Regions from separate parts of the Homo sapiens genome. Here region 1 is linked to region 2. Evidence: fine-mapped QTL for protein levels in blood plasma. Region 2 holds a variant in brackets. A gene starts in the other region. All regions are shown on their reverse strands.

Region 1 (8,000 bases), not on the chromosome of region 2:
AGGTGGATATGAGGGTGATGGGTGGGGAAATGGGAGGCACCCGAGATGGGGACAGCAGAATAAAGACAGCAGCAGTGCTGGGGGGCAGGGGGATGAGCAAAGGCAGGCCCAAGACCCCCAGCCCACTGCACCCTGGCCTCCCACAAGCCCCCTCGCAGCCGCCCAGCCACACTCACTGTGCACTCAGCCGTCGATACACTGGTCTGTTAGGGAGAAAGTCCGTCAGAACAGGCAGCTGTGTGTGTGTGTGCGTGTATGAGTGTGTGTGTGTGATCCCTGACTGCCAGGTCCTCTGCACTGCCCCTGGGCAGCCCCTGCCCCACCTGGCCCAGCTGCAGAAGATATGGGGGTTCCTTTCAGAGATGGGGCAACAGAGGGGTGGATGGCAGGGCAGGGGATGTGGGAGAAAGGCCTGGGGAGGGGCTGCCCTGAGTGAGGCCCAGCTCCCAGGCTCCTCGGGCACCCAGGTCTCCTGCCTGTTTACCAGTCCAGGCAGTCTCTCAGCCTGGGGGAGGCCAGTGGCTCTCTGAATGGCCTGGCTGGAGCCTCCTGCCCAAGCCAGGCTCCCTGGAGTCAAGGACAGCTCCCAAGTCAGTGGTGAGCAAGTCCCCAGGGGAGAGAGGACAGCCAGGACAGCAAAACCCAGGGTGACGAGGCCTGGGAGGGTCGGGGGAGATGGCCCAGAACAAGGGGGCCTGGGAGGGTGGCCAGAGGTGTCAGGCCAGTGAGACTGAGAAATGGATACTCAGGCCTGGGCCTGAAATCCTTGTCTGGGCAGACCCGGGCTAAACTGCCAGGAAAGAGCACTTGCGGCCTGGGTCCCTGGGAGTCCCATAGACCCTGGGGTGGGGCACAGTCTTCCTGGGCCCAGAGTGGCTTCCAAGGAGCTCCTGGACCATCCACTGCTCCAGTGACTGAAGCTGAGGACGGAGTCCCTCCTCTCCCTGATCCCTGGTAGGGAAGCATCCTGCCTGAACAGTCCCCATGTCCCCGTCCCCTCATCCAGACTGGCCATTACCGATTGGGACAGGGAAGACGATGTGGTTTTCAGGGAGGCCCAGAGATTTGGAGAAGCGGATGAAGTTCTCCTTTAGTTCCGAAGTCAGCTCCTTGGTTCTCCCTGTGACCAAGATGGCCAGTGAGTGGCTGGCAGACACCACATAAATATCGTTGAATGAGTAGATGAGGCCTCAGATCCCTTCCTCATGGGGGACCGGCCTCCCCTCCCACTAAGTGTGATCAGGAGCCAGTCCCCGAGGGGATGGGAGAGGACCCACCGTAGAGGGTGATCTTGAAGTACTCCCTGTTTTGAGAAACTTTCTTGAAGAACACCATAGCATGCTGGTTGTAGTTGGTGCTCACCACTCGGACGAGGTAACTCGTTAATCCAGGGTAACCTGCAGGCGTGGACGGTGAGGGGTCAGCCCTGCCCTGGATGGGAGGAGGGAGCTGTCCCCTCCCTCCCCAGCCCATCAACGTGGGCTTCTCCCCATACAACACATCTGTGTGGAGGGGCAGGAAGGTCTGTGCCCCTACCCAGCTCCCCGGAGCCCCAACTCAGTGCCCCACCTCACTCAAGACTCACTCTTAATGTTGCCCAGCGTGAACTCGCCGGGCTGGCAACCTGGAACAAAAGTCCTGATCCAGTAGTCACACTTCTTTTTCCTTGGGAGGGAGAGATGGGTGGGTGAGAGGGGAGACAACCCAGGCTTGGGCCTCCTGTGCTGGACAAGGTGGGGCCAGGGCAGCAGCAGGGTTCTGTTGCTCTCAGTCCGGCCCAACCCGTGACAGCTCATCCCCCACTACCTGGAGGGGCCCTACCCCACCCAGCCGAGATGGGCCTGGGCCTTCTCCCTGAGCTGACACCAGGCTGTCCCTCCTGGCCTGCCTGGGGCCCCTGGACCCCACTCAGACCCTCCAGCACCCGATGTCCTTCTTTCCTTTGGCTGCCTCCCTGGGTGGCTTTCACCCCCCCCGCCACCCAACACACAGAAACCCTGCATTTCTCCCCTGCACTCAGCTTGCTGCTTCCCTTCCTATACCCTCTCCCGGGGATCCACCTCGGTACTTCCAGTCTGCTCCATGCCAGCCGTTCCCCTAGCTCTCGGGTCAAACCTGACCCCATCCTTGAGTCCTCCCACTTCCCATCCCCTGGCACCCCAGGGCTGAGCTCCCCAACCTGTCTGTATTCTGCTCCTTGCTCCACAAATGCCCCAATCCCAATCCACTCAGCTGCCAGAGTCAGAAACCCACTGGGGGCGGCTGATCCCTGGCTCCCTGCCTCTTCACCCTGCGCCTGTTCTCTCACACCTGTGACGGCCCCGCTTCACTTTCGCTGGTCTCCCGACCCCCTAGGCTGCACCCCACCAAGTCTCCCCACCCTGCGGCCCAAGAGCCCTGCTCTAAGCCACTCCGCAGCAGATCCGCTGGGGCGGGGCCTGAGGACCGTGCTAGGTGCTAGCGTGGCCACCTGCCCCTCCAGGCTGCTCAGCAGCTCTGCTCAGGGTGACCCTGCGATGGCTTGCTCCTTCCTGAAGGGGGGGCTCTCTCTGACTCCAGCCCCTGCCGGGAACACCCCACATTTCCTTTTGAAGCAGGTTGGCTCTTTTAAGGCCACCTCCCTGGAAGCCTTCCATGAAGGCACTGGGTGGGGTTCCAGGCTGGATCCAGTGTCCCCTCCTCCCGCTCCCAGGCACCCCTCCTCTCTCCGTCTTGTTTTCTAACGACTGTGCATGTCCATCCCCACCACTGTCTGTGTGTCTGCATGGAAATGTGCTATAAACGTTGCTCTAAGGAACAGAGGAAGGATGAACACAGATGAATTCCGGGCAGAACAGCGAGGTGAACGACAGGATCCCTCAGCTTTGGCCATCCCTTGCCTGTGACGTCAGTCTGACTCTCACACCCCCAGGAGATGTCGGCCCTCACCTAAACAGGACGGAGGTGACATTGTAGCTCTTGTCTTCTTTCAGCTCATAGATGGTGGCATACATCTTTTGCGGGTCTTTGTCTTCTCTGAGAATTGCATTCCCTGCCAGGCCTACCACATACCACTTCCCCTGGAACTGCAAGGGACTGATAAGAGGCACAACCCAGGAATGGCCCTAGGAGCCACCCCTCCAGCTCTGTCCCTGTGGCACCTCTGGGCCGCCCAGCTTGGAACCATGAGCCCCTCTAGCTGGGCAGCAGGGCCCAGGCTGGGCCTGCACTGGTGAAGGGGCAGGAGCAGGAGGCCATCAGTCCAGAAGGGAGTCCTGGGGGAAGAGGCGGTTCTGAGTCTGGCAGGGAGGAGGGTGACCTCCTCACTGGAGGAGGCATGTGGCTGGTGGGCCTTCCTGAGCCTCAGTTTCCTCATCTGTGCAGGGGGACTAAAAGTGCTCCCACCTTCTTTGGACAATGGGGGTTATGGGAGAGGGGATGTGGACCTGGGGGAGTCTGTTCAGGCTGAGAGGGGGTGGGGATGGGGGGAAGGGGCATGGTTTCCACCAGGGGACCCTGGTGGCACAGAGTGAGCTGAAACCTGGACCCTGGACTCCTAGAGTCCTGCCCAACGCTCTTCCTGAGTCTCTTCACCTCTCCTCCCCTCTGCTCCCACTCTTCCCCAGGCCCTGCCTGCAGGTGCCCCTCTTGGCCCCTTACTTGGTTGTCCTGGAAGTTCTGCTGCAGAGGGACCTTGCTCAGAGGTGGGGCTGGGATCAGGTCTGAGGTGGAGTCCTGGGCCTGGGCATGCAGAGCCCCCAACAGGGCTAGGCCCAGCCACAGGAGACCTAGGGGCATGATTTCAGGGCCGAGGAAGCAGGCGCTGTGGTGGCTGCTGGGCCTGGCAGGGGTGGAAGAGGAGGTGGCGAGTGAGAGGCTCACCTGGGTGGCCCTATTTATGGGATCTAGGGTGGGTTGATTCATTCTTTGCCAAGGCCAGGAATGTGAGGCAATTGCCAGCAACTCCTGCGGAAACACTTGGCAAGATTTCTGCACCTGGTCAGGATTGGGCAAGACAGAGGGACGGGGAGAGTGAGGGACATTCCCGGAGTGCTGCACCTCTGGCAGGGACAACGACTCCCTCTGTGCCTTCCTTGTGCTGTTTCTTTCTTCTGATTGCCCTGTATGTGGGCCGGTGGCCTGTGAGCCGGAAGAGCTGTCATCTCTGACCCCCCTGCTCAGCTGGATCCCAGGGTGGGGTATGTGCCCTGTGGTCCCCTCCCCACACCCACAGAAAGGAAAGAATGAATGCCTCCTTCCAACAGATCATGTGCTGTTTCCTGGTTCTTTTAAGGGTCAGGGAAGGGTGGGGTGGCTGACAGTGGACAAGGAAAAACAAGGCGTCTGCTCTGAACTCATGGAGCCCAGAATCATGGCCCTCCCAGGAGCCCCAGTCCAGGACCTGCATGTGCTCCAGGGGCCTTGAGACAGCCCCTTGCCCCTCTCCTTGCCCCATTTGCAGGAGGGGACCCCAGTGGACCCCTGAGGGACCCTTCCTCTCCTGTGAGTGCAGTGGGAAGAGACCCCACACAGGGCACATGGGTTGAGTGCTGAGGCTACAGTCCCTGTCCTGGGTGAGTTGGGCTGATGTGTGGGGGCGTGAAGGCGCCACACTGCTGCTCTGGACACCTGTTGCTTTGGGTCACTGACAGTGCAAGGATCTGGCCTTATCCTTGAGGTCACTGAGACCATCCCCCTGACTCTAGTCACAGCCTTTTTCCATTGAACCCAGCAGCCCAGGCCAGGGGTTCTGGAACTGTCACCGAGATGGCTGGTCCCAGCCTTGTCCAGCAGGGAAGCAGTTATCTCAACGGGGGCCTGGCTGGCATCCTCGGGAGGCAGCGATGGATCGTAGGCCCTGTGCAGTGTCCGCAGAGATGGCTCACCCATGAGGGCTGAGGCCGTCCTGGATGCCTGACCTGAGGCTGGACTGAGGGTTCGCTGGTTTTAGAGCTTTCAATGGGACTAACGGGGACCTCACTGGCTCTGCCTACGTGCTGCTTGGGATCCCCAATCTGGGCTTGGGGGCAGCAGGGCCTCAGGGAAGGGGCTCTGGGAGTCCTGAGCTGGGGTTAGTCTAGAGAGGCACCCACTGGATCCCTGCCCCCTCAGGCCCTGTCCTGCCTGCCCGATTGGATGATGAAAGGGCAGGAAGCAAAGATGAGTAAAACTGCAGGGGAACGATGTTGCACCAAAGCCTTCCCTTTCTAGAGGTAGCCAGTGGCTACTCGCTCCCTCCGAACCCCCTCTTCCCCTCATGACCCTGTTCCCAGGAACTCCACCTCTGCTACTGTCTTTGACCTTAAAAAGTATCCTCTGCCAGGCCGGGTGCGGTGGCTCACATCTGTAATCCCAGCATTTGGGAGGCTGAGGCGGGTGGATCACGAGGTCAGGAGTTCGAGACCAGTCTGGCCAACACGGTGAAACCCCATCTCTACTAAAAATACAAAAATTAGCAGGGCATGGTGGCAGGCGCCTGTAATCCCAGCTACTCGGGAGGCTGAGGCAGAAGAACAGCTTGAACCTGGGAGGCGGAGGTTGCAGTGAGCCGAGATCACGCCTTTGCACTTTAGCCTGGAACAGAGCGATATTCTGTCTTAAAAAAAAAAAAAAAAAGGTATCCTCGGCTGGGCGCAGTGGCTCTCGCCTGTAACTCCAGCACTTTGGGAGACTGAGGCGGGTGGATAACCTGAGGTCAGGTGTTCAAGACCAGCCTGACCAACATGGTGAAACCCTGTCTCTAGTAAAAATACAAAGATTAGTTGGGCATGGTGGCGCATGCCTGTAATCCCAACTACTCGGGAAGCTGAGGCAGAAGAATTGCTTGAACCTGGGAGGCGGAGGTTGCAGTGAGCCAAGGTTGCGCCATTGCACTCCAGCCTGGGCGACAGAGGGAGACTCCATCTCGGGGAAAAAAAAAATGTATCCTCAGGGACTAGCCTGGCCAATATGGCAAAACCCCGTCTCTACTAAAAATACAAAAATTAGCCAGGTGGGGTGATGCATGCCTATGATCCCAACTACTCAGGAGGCTGAGGCAGGAGAATGGCTTGAACCCGGGAGGCGGAGGCTGCAGTGAGCCAAGATCGCACCACTGCACTCCAGCCTGGGAGACAGAGTGAGACCCTGTCTGAAAAAAGAAAAAAAAAACCACGTATCCTCGGGGAGGCTGAGGTGGGAGGATCACTTGGGCCCAGGAAGCCGAGGCTGCAGTGAGCTATGATTGTGCCACTGCACTCCAGCCTGGATGATAGAGTGACCTAAATCTAAAAAGTACCCTCTAGTCTACGGTGACTGCTTCACGTAGCTGAGACCAGCGGGTGGAGCCCCAGAGAATTTGAAGTTGGGGGTGAGGCAGTGTCATGGATCTCTGAGGACCCAGGACTCCAGGGTATGAATGTGGTGGGTGAGCAGGGCACTGGGTCCACAGTGGGAAGACACCAGAGCCAGGTGCAGAAGGGGAGATAGTCCCGCTTGGGGGTCCCCCAGGCTGGCTTGAAGCCTGGCTCCTCCGCATGCATGCAGATCTCTGCCTAGCTCCCACACAAATCAGGCGCTCCTCTGTAGAGAGGGCAGCTCTGCGCTTCTGTGAGGTCATGCATGGACAGCACCGGGCCCCAGGGTGTCCCTACACAAGGCTGAGTTTCTGATCAAACCCATGCAGGGCTCATTCCTCTCTCTGCACCAGCTCCAGACCTGTCTCCTACCCACTGGCCTTGGCTCTCTTCAGAGTCTAGCAGGGCTGCAGGGAGGGGGTCAGCTCTACATAGACCCACCACACAAGCTTCAGGACTCAGCACTAGGAAGGTTGGGTAAGGACTGTGGTGTAGACCTCCCATTCAGACTTGACCGACTCCAAGGGCTCCAGGGTCAACAGGACACTGGGGCCCCATTCCTCACCCACCCCCTTTCCACTGGGCCCCATTCATTGGGCCCTAGCCAATGAGGGTACACAAGTGTTCACACTGCTCAGCGCTTGGGGGAGTCCCTGGACCCCGGGGCTCTTGGGACAATCTCCACGACACGTGTGGCACTGTGCATGGCATGACAGGCACCCACCTGCCTCCCCTCGGCCCCTCCTATGGTTTCCACCGTGGCCCCTGGACTGGGCCTGCTTTCTCTCAAGGAGCTGCAGGTGCCTCTAGTGAGCCCTCAACGAGCCACACAGAAGCAATGGGGCCAAGCCCCTCCTGAGAGGAGCTGGGCTGGGCTCCCAAGTCCTGCTGTGCAGGTCGGCTTAGCAACAGCAGGAGCTTAAAGACAGGTCCCTGCCTGGGTTTTCCGTGGCCAGAGACCAGAAGTACTCCGGCTGCTCCCGACCTCCCCTCGCAGTCTCTGGCAGGCAGCTGTCCCCACTCTCCACGCCCAAGAGTGGGTGCTCCCTGGAGACTGCAGCAGCCTGTCCTCCCATGGAGAGGCCCAGGTCTCATCCATGCATGAAGGCAGCAAGATGCTTCCTGGCGGTCCTTACATCTCAGGAATCCAGTCTGACTCCCCATTCTGGTTTCCGGATCTTGTGAGTAGTGTTCAGCGTGGCCATGAATGGTTAACCCTCTGACGTGTTTGAAGGCTGGGCAGGAGGTGACTGGCTAGGCTTCTAGGAGCCAGGTACCACACCTGGAAGGAGTCTACAGTCAAGATGCCCCCAGGAGGCCCAGTCACAGATGCAGGAAGTCTTGGTGTCTGCAGATCAGCTCTCCTTGGTCACGGCAGGTCCGGGCTGGGCACCCGACTCTCAAACACCCAGGAACGGGAGGGGCTGTTTAGTGTGAGGAGCTTGCCCTGCCAGGGTCTTGGGCTGAGTCTCCTGTTTCCAGAAACAGTTTTCCAACCCCCATCCTCTCTCATGCCAAGGCTCGCCAAGGGGCCTTGAGGTCCTCCTGCCCCTTCTACCTGACAGGGACCCTGCCCGCCTGTGAAAATCCCCTCCCAACCCTCCCCCAAGTACACCCACTGGATTCCTCCCTCTGGTGAACCCCTGGGGTCCACCAGACAGGGGGAAGCGGGCCCTGCTGCTTGAG
Region 2 (16,116 bases):
TTTGAGTCTTTTCAACAAAATGTATGGACACTAATAAGCAATAACAACTATGTATTGAGCATGTTAAAAATCTAAGTAATCAATGGCAGACTGGATAAGGAAAATGGTATATTTCTTTGGGGTGGTACATATACACCATGGAATACTATCCAGCCATAAAAAAGAACAAGATCATGTCCTTTGCAGCAACATGGATGGAGCTGAAGGCCATTAACCTAAGTGAACTAACACAAGAACAGAAAGCCAAACACTGCATATTCTCACTTATAAGTGAGAACAAACATTGAGTATGCAATTTACCTATAAAACAAATCTCCACATGTACCCCTGAACCTAAAATAAAAGTTAAAAAAAAACCTAAGTGGCTAAAAAAAAAAATCAACTTGCCTTTACCAAAAATTTTCAATGAATTCAACTTAGTTTTCATAGAAACACTAATTTCCTTTTTAATACTCGGATTCCACAGGTTGTAGATTATTTTATTAAATACATACATGCAATATTAGCTAACTCTGAGGGCTTCTACTGTTCTCAGTGCTTGACCTAAATTCACTTATTAATTGTCACAACTAGCCTGTAAGGACAATGATATGATTACCCCCATTTCTCAGGGGAGAAAATGGTGGGAACTGGCTTGATAGACATGTACAGGTGACTTTTGATGAACATGTAACCGAATGGATGAGTCCAGAAGTATGTGATTTATAGCATGTAGCTTATTAGCTAGAGCTCTCAGGTTTGTGGGCCTCAGCCAACATGTGTGCACAAGTTAAGAGTGACCAAGTTAGTCTTAAATAAGAGAGTACAGTTAAGAGGACTCTTACTGTAATGAGAGGGAGGATGGAATAATGGAAAGAGGATGCATTTTGGGGTCAAACCAACTTGAGATTGAATAAGGGTGCTGACGATTACTAGCTGCTTAACTCCAAGAACCTCATTCCTTGTCCATAAAATGGGAATAATTGTAGTTTATTGGGTAGTCTGTTTTCTCATTTATTGATTTAATACAAACTTTTTTTTTCAAGCACCTTCTAGTGTTCCAGGCACCAAACAGTTATAAGATTACATAAATAAACAAAACATTAAGTTTCCCTACCCTCATGGAACATGAATTTTGGGTATAGAGAAAAAATAAATAACTAAATAAACATGGTCAGAAGTGCTAGGTAGGAAAATAGGGTAAAATGATACAGACACATAGAATGTAAAGATTCATTTGTTCATTCACTCATTATTGTATGCTCAGTCAACTAGTATTTATTGGATATTAATATTTATTGAATACTTACTATGATTCAGGCATAATGCAATGATGAGTAAGATAACATAGGCAACTATACTAGACGCTACAGCATTATGGATGTAAAGATTAATAGCGGAAAATCCCATATTTTCCAGAAGTTCAGTCTAGCTGGGAAAATCACTGATTAAAAAATAGTATAGTAAACACTCTACCAAAGGAAGCGCAAAAACAATGAGAGCTCAGTGGAGGGAGAGATGGAAATATTTGGAACAGAAATAAAATGGATAAGCATTTAATGTCAGAAAATAAAGTGGACTTTGATGGCCACATTAGGTATCAGAAGTCTGCAGGGCTATCATGCATATTGTGTACTGCACAATTCCAGAAGGTACTCTTCAAAGAAACTAAGATATAAATGGTGGGCCCTAGAATTGTGCAGTGTACAACTTCCAAATCCATACCCTGAGGCCCTACCAGACGCTTTGAAGGCACTGATTTTGACTAATGTTATTTTATATTGAATTGTAAGTGAGGGAGGTGATGGCTGAAAACATGATCTTCTCAGAGCTAAGGACTTCTAGAGGAATATGTTTGGCCCAATGAAATAGATGGCAAAGGAAATAATTTTAATTGTACTGGTAATTTTTATCATGAAGGTATAGATGGATTCAGTTTCATGGGACCTGAAGCTTATATACATAATGAGTATTTTAAAAGAAAAAAGACAATTAGAAATAGAAAATTCTTTATAAAACTGAATATTTATTTGGTATAAGAATAGATATTACAACAAATTAAAAATTACAAAAAGTCAACAGAAGCACTCAATGTGGGGACCTAACCACATTTTCTTGACACTCAGTTTTCTAGTAAATGCCTCAGGTTCCTACTACAAGCTCTTGCACCTCTCCTCCCAATGTTTGAAGGTAGTGGGATGGAAGTGTGGGGGAGTTAATGCCTCTGGGAGCCTGCCACCCCTAGGTGGTGAAGGATGAATATTTTGTTGGAGGATAAACACCTGTTGCATGGGACAACTGTCAAACATTTCCCACGCAAACTCCTAGAGCTCCCCACTGTGATTGGGCTCCAGATACCACAGCAACAACTTGCCCAATAACACATTCTAGAAGTTATCTTCCTTTCTGTCATTTTCTCACCCTCCTGCTAGTATTTTGTGGTCAGGACTAGCTACAGGATTTTCAGGATCCAGTGCAAATTAAAATTGTGAGGCCCTTGTTGAAAAATTATTAAGAATTTCGAAATGGTAATAGCAGAGCATTAAACTAAGTGCAAAACCCTTTTGAGCACAGGCCTCGGGCAACTGCATAGGTTGCTTGTTTGTGGAGCCGTTCTTGGTGCTGGTATCCTGTCTCAAACTGTTTGGATTCTCCCTGTCTCAGGATTTGCTTCTGGGGAAACTCAACCTAATATACAGGGATAGCCCTAAAATCTCCCAGATGAAGACAGAGATTGTGTATTAGTCCATTTTCACGCTGCTGATAAAGACATACCCAAGACTGGGAAGAAAAAGAGGTTTAATTTGACTTACAGTTCCACATGGCTGGGGAGGCCTCAGAATCACGGCAGGAGGTGAAAGGCACCTCTTACATGGCAGCAGCAAGAGAAGATGAGAAAGAAGAAAAAGTGGAAACCCCTGATAAACTCATCGGATCTCGTGAGACTTACTTACTATCACGAGAATAGCACGGGAAAGACCAGCCCCCATGATTCAATTTACCTTCCCCTGGGTCCCTCTGACAACATATGGGAATTCTGGGAGCTACCATTCAAGTTGAGATTTGGGTGTGGACACAGCCAGACCATATCATACTGTATTTTTATCAGTTAAATGCCTGACCCATATTTATAATATTTTTTCTTTACTTTTGACTGTATATTCTCTGATTGTTTCTACATGTAATAGTTTTGTAATATTTTATTTGGAGAAAAATGGAAAGATAATTCAGTCCTTCCTTTAAATCAATGCACAAGGTATTTTTATTTTACATAACTAATAGCTTAGAAAAGCTTCAGCCTCGGAGCCCATTAATAAGTCTTGTAAATTTTTAGAATTGTTATCCAATTTTGAAAAATTTCTGAAGTTTTCTTCTTACATGAGCAATCAGGTTTCAGGGCATTTCTATGTACTGACAAATTCTAAACTCTCTTTTTAATAGCTTTCTACTGTTGCTTTAGCAAATTACCATAAATGTAATGACTTAAAACCATGCACATTTATTACCTTTTAGTCCCGTGGGTCAGAAGTCTAACACAGATATTACTGGAGGGAAATCAGTGTTCTAGCAGGGCTGCATTCCTTTCTGGAAGCTCTAGAGGAGAAGCCATTTCTTTGCATTTCCCAGATTCTAGAGGCCACCCACATTCTTTGACTAGAGATCCTGTTCCTCTGTCTTTAAAGTCCACAGTGTTCTCTTTCATGTATCCTTTCATGACCTACTCTTCTGTCTCTGTTTTCCATTCTTAAGACTCATGTGATTAGATTAGGTCCATCCAGATAATCCAGGATAATCTCCCCATTTTAAGGCTATAACCTTAATAACATCTGCAAGGGTCTTTTGGTGATGTAAGAGAACATATTCACAGGTTCTGGGCATTACAAAATGAGCACCTTTTTGGGGTAGCCAATTTAGCCTACCACGCTCTTTTCACTGATGACATTTATTAACAAGTTTGTCCTTGTTGCCTTGTTTAGTGGTGTATTATGAATTTATTGCTTTGTCAGTGTCAGTTAAACCAGGAGGGAACATAAATATTTTTCCAATGTGTTTATAGGATTCACTCCTCTTTATTAATTGGACTACCAAACTATCTGAGAGCCTATTGATTACTCTATTAAAAATGTTTTCTTAGTGAATTTACTACCTTAGGTATGGTCTGATTGTTTTTTTTTTCTGGCAATTTACTTCTTGAGGTCAGAATAATTTGTACCAATTCTTGTCACTCTTATGAATTGCTGTTATTTCATATTCAATTTTTTATGTGAACTTTGTATCCATTATTTAATATCTAAATTAAAAATGACAAAGGTACCTTTATATATATATTATCATCAGGACTCTGTCATTTCTTACTTATTTAATTGACATGAAATGTCTCTCCATTTGCAGATAAAGAGACACATTACCAACTCACCTTCCACAAAGCTATCCTGCAAATGCTGCAGCCATAGCAATGCCATTGACATGAAGGGAAATATAATGAGAGGGAAGAGTTTCCTAAAGGATTCCAGTTAAAATATCTTATTTTTGCCAATTTTACAAAAAATATACAAGTATGCGAATGCACTGTTAGAGCTTCTGCCAGAAACGTGGAACGGGCCTAAGGCTTAAACTTCTTTAGCGTAATGTAAATATGTCTTCATTGCTGTGGACTGCAGTGGAAGGGAACTTAGCACAGCCTGGAAGTGTCCAGAGAGACTTGCCAGAGGAAGCATTTGCTTAAGCCAAGTCTTAAAGGACAAATGGAATTTAGCCAATCACAGACAGAAAGGAAGGGTCTTCTGGGCAGATGGCATGATTTGCTTAAGCACAGAAGTGTGAGTGGAGTTGTTCAATGTGGTGGAGGAGAAGGAGAGGAGGGAGACAAGGAGATTCAGCTGATGGGAGAGGCAAGAGGAAGAGCATGGGTTTTATCCCATAGAAGAGTTATAAACAGAGATCACAGAGAGCTGGATCTATGTTTTAGAGTCATTATGGTTCTGCCTAAAAGAGAATTGGATGGGGGAGCAGGAGTGACTTCTTTAATCTGTTTTTTTTCAAAGCAAATTTATAACCACTATCCCTGTGGACCAGCACTATCCGGCAGCACTTGCTGGGATGATGGAAATGTTCTACGGCTGCACTGTCCAATGTGGCACACCCCTACATGTGGCCATTGAGCATTCAAAATGTGACAGGTGTGGCCAAAGAACTAAATCTTCAGTTTTATTTAATTTCAAATTTTAAAAATTTAAACAGTCACACACATGGCTAGTGGCTAGCACATGGGACAGCACAGCTTTAGCTCTTCAAAGAGAAAGTCTATGGGATATTCAGGTTCATCAGTCTGAACTTGATAAATTTTAATTTTCGAGGAATCATTCTGGGTTCTAGGAAGAATTTAAGCAGTACAAGACATAGATGGACCATAAATTAATGGAATTTATGATCAGGACAATGCTTTGTGTCAAAAGAGCTGAGTGAATACTAACAAAAAGAATTCAGAATATGTAAACAAAAAATGGCTATGAGAATAAATATTCAGTGCAACATTAGTTGTACACAACCTAAACATGCAAATATTAAGATTGATTAAGAAAATGATAGCCTCCATCCATGCAATGGAATAGTATAAATAATGCAAAAGCATATTTATTTCAGTGGAAAGATGCTTATGATATAGTAGGTAGCAGAAAACCATATTATAAAATCGTTATGAAAACATTTTTAATGAAAATATGCTTAGAAATATGTTAGGTTGTATTAATACATAAAATACAAATAGAGTGGTTATCTCTGAGTTGAAGGCAATTGCTTCATTTTTCTATCTTCCTTTTTTTGCCATCTCTATAGTATCATATTTTTTTTTGCAATGAGAGCGTATTGCTTTTATAACAAGAAAAATAAGAAAACAATAAAAATAAGTTATTTTTTAATTCTTAAAGGAGTGAAGTAGACATCAAGATCTCAAGATCTATTGCAGTTGAGAGAAAAGATATCTCAGTAGGTGAGGGATGGGGTAGGCAGGGAAGTCCTGTCACCAAAGTTGAGCTTTGGAAGGGAAGGGGGAGGTCAGGGTGGAGAAGGGAAGAAACAGTTCTTGAGCCCCTACTGTTTGGTGAATGTTCACATGTGTTATCTTCTTTAATCCCCACCATGACCAGATAAGGTAGGTACCAACATCATGCTGTTTTACAAATGTGAAAAATCAAGACTCTAATAAATGAAATAACCATGTAAGTAACATTAGTAATCTTGAAGACAGAAGACTGGAGGTTTGCTTACTGGAGGTTGCCAGCTTTTTCTACTGGATGAGTTTCATAATATGCTGGCTCTCATTCGTATATTTATTTGTGTAACGACTGTGTGTAATGTTTGTGTAATGACTAGACTGGAAGCTCTGTGGGAGCAGGGACTGTGTGTGTTTAGTTCACTACTGTGTCTACAGCCCTTAGCAAAGAACTTGGCACACACCAGGCTCTCAATTAATATTGCTCACTGTATTCAAATATATCAGGGGTCATTAATTCCTGTACTTTTAACAGATTGTTTAGATTGACAGATTTAGATAGCTTGGAGGGACTCAAATGAGATAATCAGCATGAGAAGACTTTGTAAACTGTAGAATCATGTACCCATGCCAGGGGTTTTTATTTTTGAAAACTTTCCTTTACTGGCTTTATTCAAGCCAAAAAAAAATATTTTTTGGAACTACTGATGATACTCCTGCAAGAAGATTTAATCTTGAAATTCTTGGAAAGTAGCACAAAAGCATTTGGTCCTAAACTCATCTTATGAGGTTTTTTGATTATTAGTCAGAACATCAGGGCTTATTGATATTTTTAGAAATATTCCTGAACCATCTCTTATTTTAACCAAATTACGAGATAAATCGAGACATGTGAAGTAAGATCGATGTGTTATTAGTTGCATGATCATTTATCATCAGCTCCTAACACAAATATTAGGAAATATGGCCTTTTCTATTTCTGTGGTCACACTAAAGGAGGCCGATTGTCTTCTTGCGGAACTGAGTGAGGGTAGGAGAATAATGGGATACAGCCTGTGTACTCACAGGATGCTGCTTATCACATTGCTAATCACATTCTGAGAAACTTTATTTTTATACGTTTTCCTTGCTGTAGTTATGAGAACACCGTCTTTGTGCCAAGTGAAGTTGGCTTGAAAGTGACTTTGTCACTTTTCAACTGTTATGACTTCAGACGAGCTTCTTGCCTGCTGCCAGCCTCAGTTTCTCCAATTTGTAAAATGGAAACAGTTATGCCAACCTTGCAGAGCTATTAGGAGAGATTAAATGAAATGATGTGTACAGCTTGCCTGACAGAGTGCTTGGCTGAAAGTACTTAATACAAATTACCTTCTTTGTCTGTTTTCCACATTTGTGGTTGACAACCCTTTCCAAACAGACACTTACTCTTCCGAATATCAGTGTATAAAATGATTTTATGGAAGCACAGTGATTTTATGGGTTAAAAAGTGACATCTATTCCTGGGGCTGGAATCTTCAGACCACAGGTTAGATTCTGTAGTTTAGTGCAGCAGAAAGAACCCAATGAAGTTTCACAGAACCATAGACTACTAGAGCAATGGGGGACATTGCTCCGGAAAACTGAGGCATGATGAAGAGAAGTGACCTACCCACAGTCTTATAGCTAGTGGCATGTGTGGTGGGTGGGATTCACAGCACGTTTAAGGAAGAAGCTCTACAAATTGTGTGGGATGTTATCTGATCCTTAGGAAAGCTGCCTAGGATGGGATGAGAGCTCTCGGTTAAATGTGTTAGCCTCTGGGACAGTAAATCCCTTCTGAATCTTAGGTGCTTAGCTTAGTTGATCAGTATGTTTATGTACTATCTCCCCATATGTGTACAGGGAATTTAAAATCAAACTCTTGAGTGTTAGGAAGGGTAATCTTTCCAAAACCAAAGAGGTGACGCAGGCAGCCACACTGGCTGCATTTCTGAGAATTCTGGGTTGCTGTCCATCTCCATGAAACCATTCTGAAGCCAATGGACAGGTAGGCCACTTTTGTTCAAACTAAACAATTAACTCATGTGTTTATTTGATTCATTTATTAATTCCTTCACCAAAAGCTCATTGAGTCCAGGCAATTAATCAGACACTTTAAGTATGGAAGTTATAGAAATGCACAAAACACATCCTTTTTCTGTGGAGATCATGGTCTGCTCTTTTCTTAATCCTAATTCCTTCCTTGAAACTCTTCTAGGGTCCGGCCTGAACTTAGCCTGAGACTCCCCAGACTGAGGCAACACAGCTTACCACCTGTTGAGGGCTGATCTAGCCATAGTGCTGGAAGACAGGGTGACAGTTCTATAGCTCCTTCCTTCATTTTCATGTTACCTGGATGTGACAATTTCTCCATAGGTGCTGTTTCTATTCTCATCCCTACTTCTAATCCTGTGTCTGCATCACCTAAGCAGGGCTTAGCAACTCTCTTCACTCCACCTCTCTCCCTTCCCACATCAGCTCCATTCTTAGTGAGTTTTAAATTTTTTAGTTGAATATTTTATATTGGAGATGGAAG[G/A]GAAAGTTAGGTTATATCACACATCACCCAAAATACTTCATAAACACTTTTAGTTGACCATGCTCTTTTCCATAACATCTCTTCCCCTGGCTACATACTGCCTATGTCTCTCTTCCCCTTCGGTCTCAATTATCTTCCCCAGACACCATATCTCTCCAAGTTCATTAATGTTAGTTCTTTTTCTTCCATCTTAGCTACAATTTGCATCCTCACCACCTTTGACAATGTAACACCCTTCTTAGAAGGAAGAAGGGAGTTGGAAATAAAATATACTTTTTTCCTGGCTAAAAGTAAGTGTATCTTCCTGTTCTACAGATGGGTTATCTCAGACAGGGAAAGCAAAATCACTTTCAAAAGTTTGAGCCTCTACTTCACAGCCTTTCTTTTCTGCCCCCAGAAGGATTAGTTATACATCATGCTTGCTGAAAGCGTAATATATTGAAAATCAGAAGAGTGCCATTGGGTGTCTGTTTAGAATATAGATGTCCGAGTCAGGAACACTCTGAATTCAACTCTTGGGCCTGCCACTCACTAGCTGGGAGATCTTGGGCAAGAGATATCCCTTGGCTAAACTTCAGTTTGCTTATCTGTAAAATGAAAACAATAGTACCTTTGAGACATGGGAGCTATGAGGATTAAATGAGGTAATGAAAAGGCTCTTAGTTGGGTACAAGTCATTGATGATCCAGGTTAGCAGTCGTAATTAGGAATCATGTGGCCAAATAGTAACATCAGCAACATTGTAAAAATGTTTCTGGGCAAGGTGCATTGGCTCACACCTGCAATCCCAGCATTTTGGAAGGTCAAGCTTGAGCCTAGGAGTTCAAGACCAGCCTGGGCAACATGGTGAAACCCCATCTCTACAAAAAACACAAAAATTAGCCAGGTGTGTTGGCGCATACCTATATTTCCAGCTACTTTGGAGGCTGAGGTGGGAGAATCACCTGAGCCCGAGAGGTCGAGGCTGCAGTGAGCCCTGACCATGTCACTGCACTGCAGCCTGGGTGATGGAGTGAGACCCTATCTCCAAAGAAAAAAAAAAGAATATTTCTGTTTTTGTAGCAGCAAATTAAGTCCTGCTACATGCCAAATATTGTGAAAATACGAATTGTCTGTTTTGCAAATCTTTTAGTACTCTTTAATGAGGTTGCATTGTAAAGCATTTGTTGAAAAGTTTGTTGAAGGTTTATTATAACACACGGTTATACCACATAGATTCTTAATCTAGAACGAATGACTTACATGAATGCAGTGATCTGTGGTGAAATGTTACCTAGGAATGAATGATGTGATGGGATGTGAAGCACCTGTGCTTCAGTTGACCTCATACAATGTCTGGCACTTTTGGGTATGGCATATCATTTTTGAAGTTACATTACTACAAAAGAATAAATGGTGTATGTGATTGTGTGTGTGTGTGTGTGTGTGTGTGTGTAGTTTTTTTTTCTTTTACCAACATGCTCTCAACTCTGGTGGTTTGTGCTTTTGCATCTATACTCTTAGGAAAAATGCACGGTCTCCCTTGACCTTTGTCAACTTCTGAAACTTTGTCAGTTGTGAAACTGTGGTATTATGTATGTGATGGGATGGAAAAAATGTTGCACTGTAGTAATCCAGGAGACAAGCGGTGGGACCTGGGTAAATAGGTGCATTTCCCATGAGTCTGTGCATGGCAAAGAGAGTCATATATTGGGAACACAGGCTGTGGAAGAGGACAGCAGGAAGTACAGGTCTGAAAAGATGACAGAGTTCTGTGAGGTAAGAAATAATATTCCTCTGCTATGAACCCTCAAATCTTCAGTGTAGTTTCTAAAATCACCAGATGTTTGGCTTAAGTGGATTCTTTTGATCTTGGAAATTGGCAGAGAGCATAATTAATATGGTGGGCATGGAAATGAGAACGGAGATTTGGGGAAACCATAAGGAAGAGATTGGATTCAAATATATGTAAATATGGGAGGGGTGGAGGAGGTGAGTTAGGATAACTTACATCTCAGAGATTCTAAGGAACATCTCAATTACTCTTTTTATAGTATTTTCACTTTACATAGCGATTTCATGTTCTGCCTCGAAAATAAAGTGTGAGATCCACATAACAGGATTTTTTCTTTCATATTGTAAATAAGTAAACTGAGGTTCAGAAAATGTAAAAGATATATACAAGATCACATAAGTGGTAAGGAGCAGAGCCAGGTCTAACGATAAACCAAATCATGGTATTTTATGGATGTAATATCTTCTAGTCCAACTGACTCCTAGATGCTTAAATTTCCTCAATAATCATATCGACTCCTTGCCTCCTCTGGTTCGTTGACAAACTGCCTTTCTAGTAGCATCTTTCTGCTTCTGTGGACTGGTGCTTTTCTAGTGTGTGTGTGTGTGTGTGTGTGTGTGTGTGTGTGTGTGTGTGTGTGTGTTTAATGTTCTGACTTCATGCATAGGTCTCAATTTCTGGTAGGTCCTTACCATACATGTGTCCAAGGCCGTATCTTCTATCCCTACATTTGCATAAAATCTAAATGCCTGGCCATTAGGGTTAAGATTAAATTTTGGTGCTCCCTTGCACTTCCAAGCCTCACATGCTCCAATATTCAGGCACAGTTTCCTTTTCATGTTAACACCCCAAGATTTCCCTTTAGTGTTACAATTTTGGATAGGAGATCCAGGCATAAGGGAGGGGTAATAGTTGTCTAAAGACATGAGGGAGGTGAGGAGGAAGAGGTGAAGAGCATTATAGGCAGAAGAAACAGCAAGATCAGATTCTTGAGTGGCAAGTATGAATGCCGTATTGCAGAAATAGTAAGGAGGTCAGCAGAGCTGGGGCAGAGCGTGGAAGTAGGAGTAGTTAAGATCAGACAAGTATTTGGGGTTGATGCTAGACTGTGGAAAGACTTGTAGACTATTAAAATGACTTTTTAAAAAGTCTTAAGTGACATGGAAAACTGTTGGAGGGTTCTGAGAAAAGAAGTGAAATAAATGGACTTGTTTTTATAATAGAATTGCTCTGGTTGCATTGTGGTGAATGAATTGGAGGAGAACAAGAGTAGAAACAGCTTATACTATTAACTAGAAGGTTATTTAAATAATCTGATTGGAGCTAATAATGGTTGCAAATAAGGTGATAATAATGGAGGTGGTCAAAAGTGGGCAGATTCTGGATTTATTTTGAAGGTGGAGCTACATGATTTCCTAATAGAATAAATGTGAAATCTCAGAGACGGAGAAGAGCTAAAGTTGACTTCATGGCCTGAGAAATAGAAATAATTTAATGGAATAAAGAAGACTGTGGGAGCAACAGATTTAGGAGAGATAGGAGAAGCTCAAATTTGGATTTAAGTTTGAAATGCTTATTAACATCCTAGTCGAGGAGGCAGTTGGTATGAGAATCTATAAATCAGAGGTGACAACCAGGCTTGCAATTTAGATCTATGTATAGATGATATATCAAGCCACACAACTGGATGAGATAATCAAGGGAGTGTGTCTAGATACAGAAAATAAGAGATCTAGAGAATGAGCTCCAGGGCATTTTATCATTTGAAGTTTGTGCTGAGGTTTCTCCGTAATGATGTGAGCAGCTCCATAGACCTCATCCCCAGCAAAACTTGTTGAAAATTATATAAGATTCTCCCAAGCATTTAAAGTCTCTGGAAATGGTTCTAAGAGCATATAGTAAATGAAAAAAAAACATTTATTTAAGAAAATATAATAAACTCAATAAGAACGATGAGAGTCTTTGCTAGTTGAGCCAAGACCTGCATTCTCTCTCCCCCATTCCAGCTCAGCAAGATGTACCATATATTCCAGACTGGTATAGCCTAAAACCCAGGGCCCTCACTCCTGCTAATTCCAAGTTGGAGGACTATATTCCCTTGGGGGGATAGGACATAAGCATTTCTCCTTCTGCTCCCAGCTACCTGTTGCTGAGGCCAGGTTCTGGGCAAGTACAGCTGGGAGCCGGGGGGTTCCCTTGTTCCATCCAGCCTCAACTATGGAATGGAGGTTTTACCTTGGGAGTAGTGCTGTTGAGAAAACTTGGGCCCCTTGCTCAAGCTTGGGGACAAGGATTCCATGTGGAGAAGGGCAAGCCAAAGGGACCTGGGGCTGATGGCCCCTCCCCAACTCACTCAGCACTCAGCTCCTAAAGTGGAGTTGTCACTCAGAGAGAAGCACGCCATCATCCCCACCCCTAGTACCAGGGCTTGGCTCAGAAATTTATACCAGGGGGAAAACAGTCTATAGAAGCAGAGAGTTCCAAATCTCTGACCAAAGGAACTTGCTTCATTTGCAACAGATTGCAGAGAAGTTCAAGCCCAAGGACACTTTCAAAAATAGTGAAAGTTGTGGTGAAAGGTAATTGGGAGATTAATAGATTCGTGGGTGTTATAGGCTCGCTAGTTTACCAGAGAGGGAAACAGGGAAGAAATAGCTGGGAAGAACCCTCCTGTGGTCAGAACAAACCTTAAACACTGACATTCAGAACTATACCTTCAAAGGAGCCTGAATTTGATTTGATTGGCTTATGAATCAATTTATGCCTTTTTTCTTGTAACTAATTTTTTATAAAACCATATAAAACAGTATGAATATGTTTTTTGTCTCTATAATACATAGAAATTTAATATTCTTGCCAATAAATTTAAAAAGAAATGTCTTTAAAAGACATGAAATTATATGAAGTAATAATATAATTATTACGAAGTATTGCTGAATTGGTAATGTTTACATATGTAATATGCATAGCAATAAAACTACACAAAGGAGAAGAAGGTAATAAACGTATATAGGAGCAATAGTTCTATATCTCATTGGAATTAAATTAGTATAAATCTGAAGCTGTTTTTGGTAAGTTAAGGTATATCTTTGGTAAGTTAAGGTATATCTATGGTAAGCCCTAGAGCAACCACTAAAAATAGTAGAAAATATCATTAAAGAAATGAAAATGCTACATTAGAAAATATTAAGTTAATGCAAAAGAAAGTAGTAAAGGAGGAATAGAGGAACAAAAAAGACATGAGACATATAGAAAAAAGGAAGTAAAATGGCAGACATAAATCCAACTACATCAGTATCATAAAATGTGAATAAAATAAATGATCCAATTAAAAGCAAACACTGTGAGACTGGATAAAAAAAGTTCCCAGTATATGCTGTCTATAGGAGATACACTTTAGATTTAAAGACAAGAATAAATTGAAGGCTGGATGCAGTGGCTTGTGCCTATAATTCCAGCACTTTGGGAGCCTGGACAGGAGGATTGCTTGAACCTAGGAGTTTGAGACCAGCTGGGCAACATAGGGTGACCCTGTCTCTACCAAAAAAAAAAAAAAAAAAAAAAAAAAAAAAATTAGCCAGGCATGGTGGCACACTTGCTTGTAGTCCCAGCTACTCAGGGGCTGAGGTGGGAGGATTGCTTGAGCCCAGGTGGTTGAGACTGCAGTGGGCCAAGATCACACCATCGCACTTCTGCCTGGGCAACAGAATAGACTCTTTCTGAAAAATCAAAAGAATAAATAAAATAAATGGAAAGTAAATGGATGAAAAAAGATATGTCATGTACACAGTGATGACAAGAGAGCTGGTGTGTTCATCAGACAAAATAGACCTTAAAACAAAAAACTTTACTGGAGATATAGAGGGATATTTTATGATAATCAAAAGTTCAATTCATCAGAAAGATGTAACCATTATAAACATATATGTATCTAACAAGAAAGCAGCAAAATACATGAAGTATAATCTGACAGAAATGAAAGAAGAAATAGATAATTAAAAACAATAGTTGGGGACTTCCATATCACACTTTTGGTAATGGATGGAACAAGTAGCAGAAGATCAACAAAGAAAGTGAAGAATTTAACAACATGATAAACCCGCTAGACTGCACAGAATCCTGTAGAGCACTCCACCTAACAACAGCAGAATATATCTTCTTTTCAAGTGAAGGATGCATCCTATGGCAGGCTATAAAACAAACCTCAATAAATTTGAAAGTATAGAAATAATAAAACCTGTCTTCCTTAACTGTAATGAAATGAAATTAGAAATCAATAAAAGATTTTCTTATATTTGAGAAACTCACAAATTTATAGAAACCAAACAACAGAGTAGCTAGTTCTTTAAACACATTAACAGAATTAATAAATATTTAGCTAAATTGACCAAAAAATTAGTGAAAATTCAAATTACTAGAATTAGAAATAAAAGAGAAACCACCGTCAGAGTGAACAGGCAACCTACAGAATGGGAGAAAATTTTTGCAACCTACTCATCTGACAAAGGGCTAATATCCAGAATCTACAATGTACTCAAACAAATTTACAAGAAAAAAACAAACAACCCCATCAAAAAGTGGGCAAAGGATATGAACAGACACTTCTCAAAAGAAGACATTTATGCAGCCAAAAAACACATGAAAAAATGCTCACCATCACTGGCCATCAGAGAAATGCAAATCAAAACCACAATGAGATACCATCTCACACCAGTTAGAATGGCAATCATTAAAAAGTCAGGAAACAACAGGTGCTGGAGAGGATGTGGAGAAATAGGAACACTTTTACACTGTTGGTGGGACTGTAAACTAGTTCAACCATTGTGGAAGTTGGTGTGGCGATTCCTCAGGGATCTAGAACTAGAAATACCATTTGACCCAGCCATTCCATTGCTGGGTATATACCCAAAGGACTATAAATCATGCTGCTATAAAGACACATGCACATCTATGTTTATTGCGGCACTACTCACAATAGCAAAGACTTGGAACCAAGCCAAATGTCCAACAATGATAGGCTGGATTAAGAAAATGTGGCACATATACACCATGGAATACTATGCAGCCATAAAAAATGATGAGTTCATGTCCTTTGTAGGGACATGGATGAAGCTGGAAACCATCATTCTCAGCAAACTATCGCAAGGACAAAAAACCAAACACCGCATGTTCTCACTTATAGGTGGGAATTGAACAATGAGAACACATGAACACAGGGAGGGGAACATCACACACTGCAGACTGTTGTGGGGTTGGGGGAGAGGGGAGGGATAGCATTAGAAGATATACCTAATGCTAAATGATGAGTTAATGGGTGCAGCACACCAATATGGCACATGTATACATAGGTAACAAACCTGCACGTTGTGCACATGTAACCTAAAACTTAAAGTATATAAAAAAAAGAAATAAAAGAGAAGATATTACTTTTGACCTTCTAGAAATAAAAAAGTATTGTATTCCAATAAATTATACAATTTGCATGAAATTGACAAATTCCTAGAAAGTCACAACCTACTGAAACTGACCCAAGAAGATATAGATAAAACAAAGAAAACCCCAAACAACTCAATTAAAAAATAAGCAAAGGACTTGAATAGACATTTCTTTAAAAAAAGATCTACAAATAGCCAATAAGCACATGATAAGATGTTTAATATTGTTATTTGATATGGTTTAGCTGTGTCCCCACCCAAATCTCATCTTGAATTGTAGTTTCCATAATCCCCACATATCGTGGGAGGGACCTGATGGAGGTAATTGAATCATGGGGCAGTTACCTCCATGCTGATGTTCTCATGATAGTGAGTGAGTTA

Which allele goes with the higher level. Positions count from the first base shown, and alleles are read on the strand shown. Strength reflects both the effect of a copy and how common the allele is.
As copies of A replace G in region 2, the plasma level of the protein whose gene starts at base 3,850 in region 1 goes down (weak association).

The links. A credible set is the group of variants that fine-mapping cannot tell apart. PIP is the posterior inclusion probability: the model's chance that the variant is causal. Protein levels are from antibody-based Olink assays in UK Biobank. Linkage for the fine-mapping came from a reference panel and not from the study's own genotypes, which makes the PIPs less certain.
Region 1: LCN2 starts here. The variant in region 2 is the best candidate, but not a certain one, in a credible set for the plasma level of the LCN2 protein (UK Biobank, PIP 0.59).

What each region holds. Positions count from the first base shown.
Region 1 is chr9:128,145,303-128,153,302 of GRCh38, reverse strand. LCN2 (lipocalin 2) reads right to left here and starts at 3,850. Exons shown (of 7, transcript NM_005564.5): 1 at 3,640-3,850; 2 at 2,929-3,065; 3 at 1,586-1,665; 4 at 1,278-1,397; 5 at 1,019-1,120; 6 at 177-203. The coding sequence starts at 3,777. The coding sequence ends at 184. RefSeq lists a silencer at 2,451-2,500 and an enhancer at 6,630-7,129.
Region 2 is chr8:129,604,981-129,621,096 of GRCh38, reverse strand. The region is part of intron 1 of CCDC26 (CCDC26 long non-coding RNA); the gene reads left to right. Among named protein-coding and RNA genes, the nearest start is that of CCDC26, 67 kb to the left of the region's middle. The variant G/A (reference allele first, on the strand shown) is at 8,527.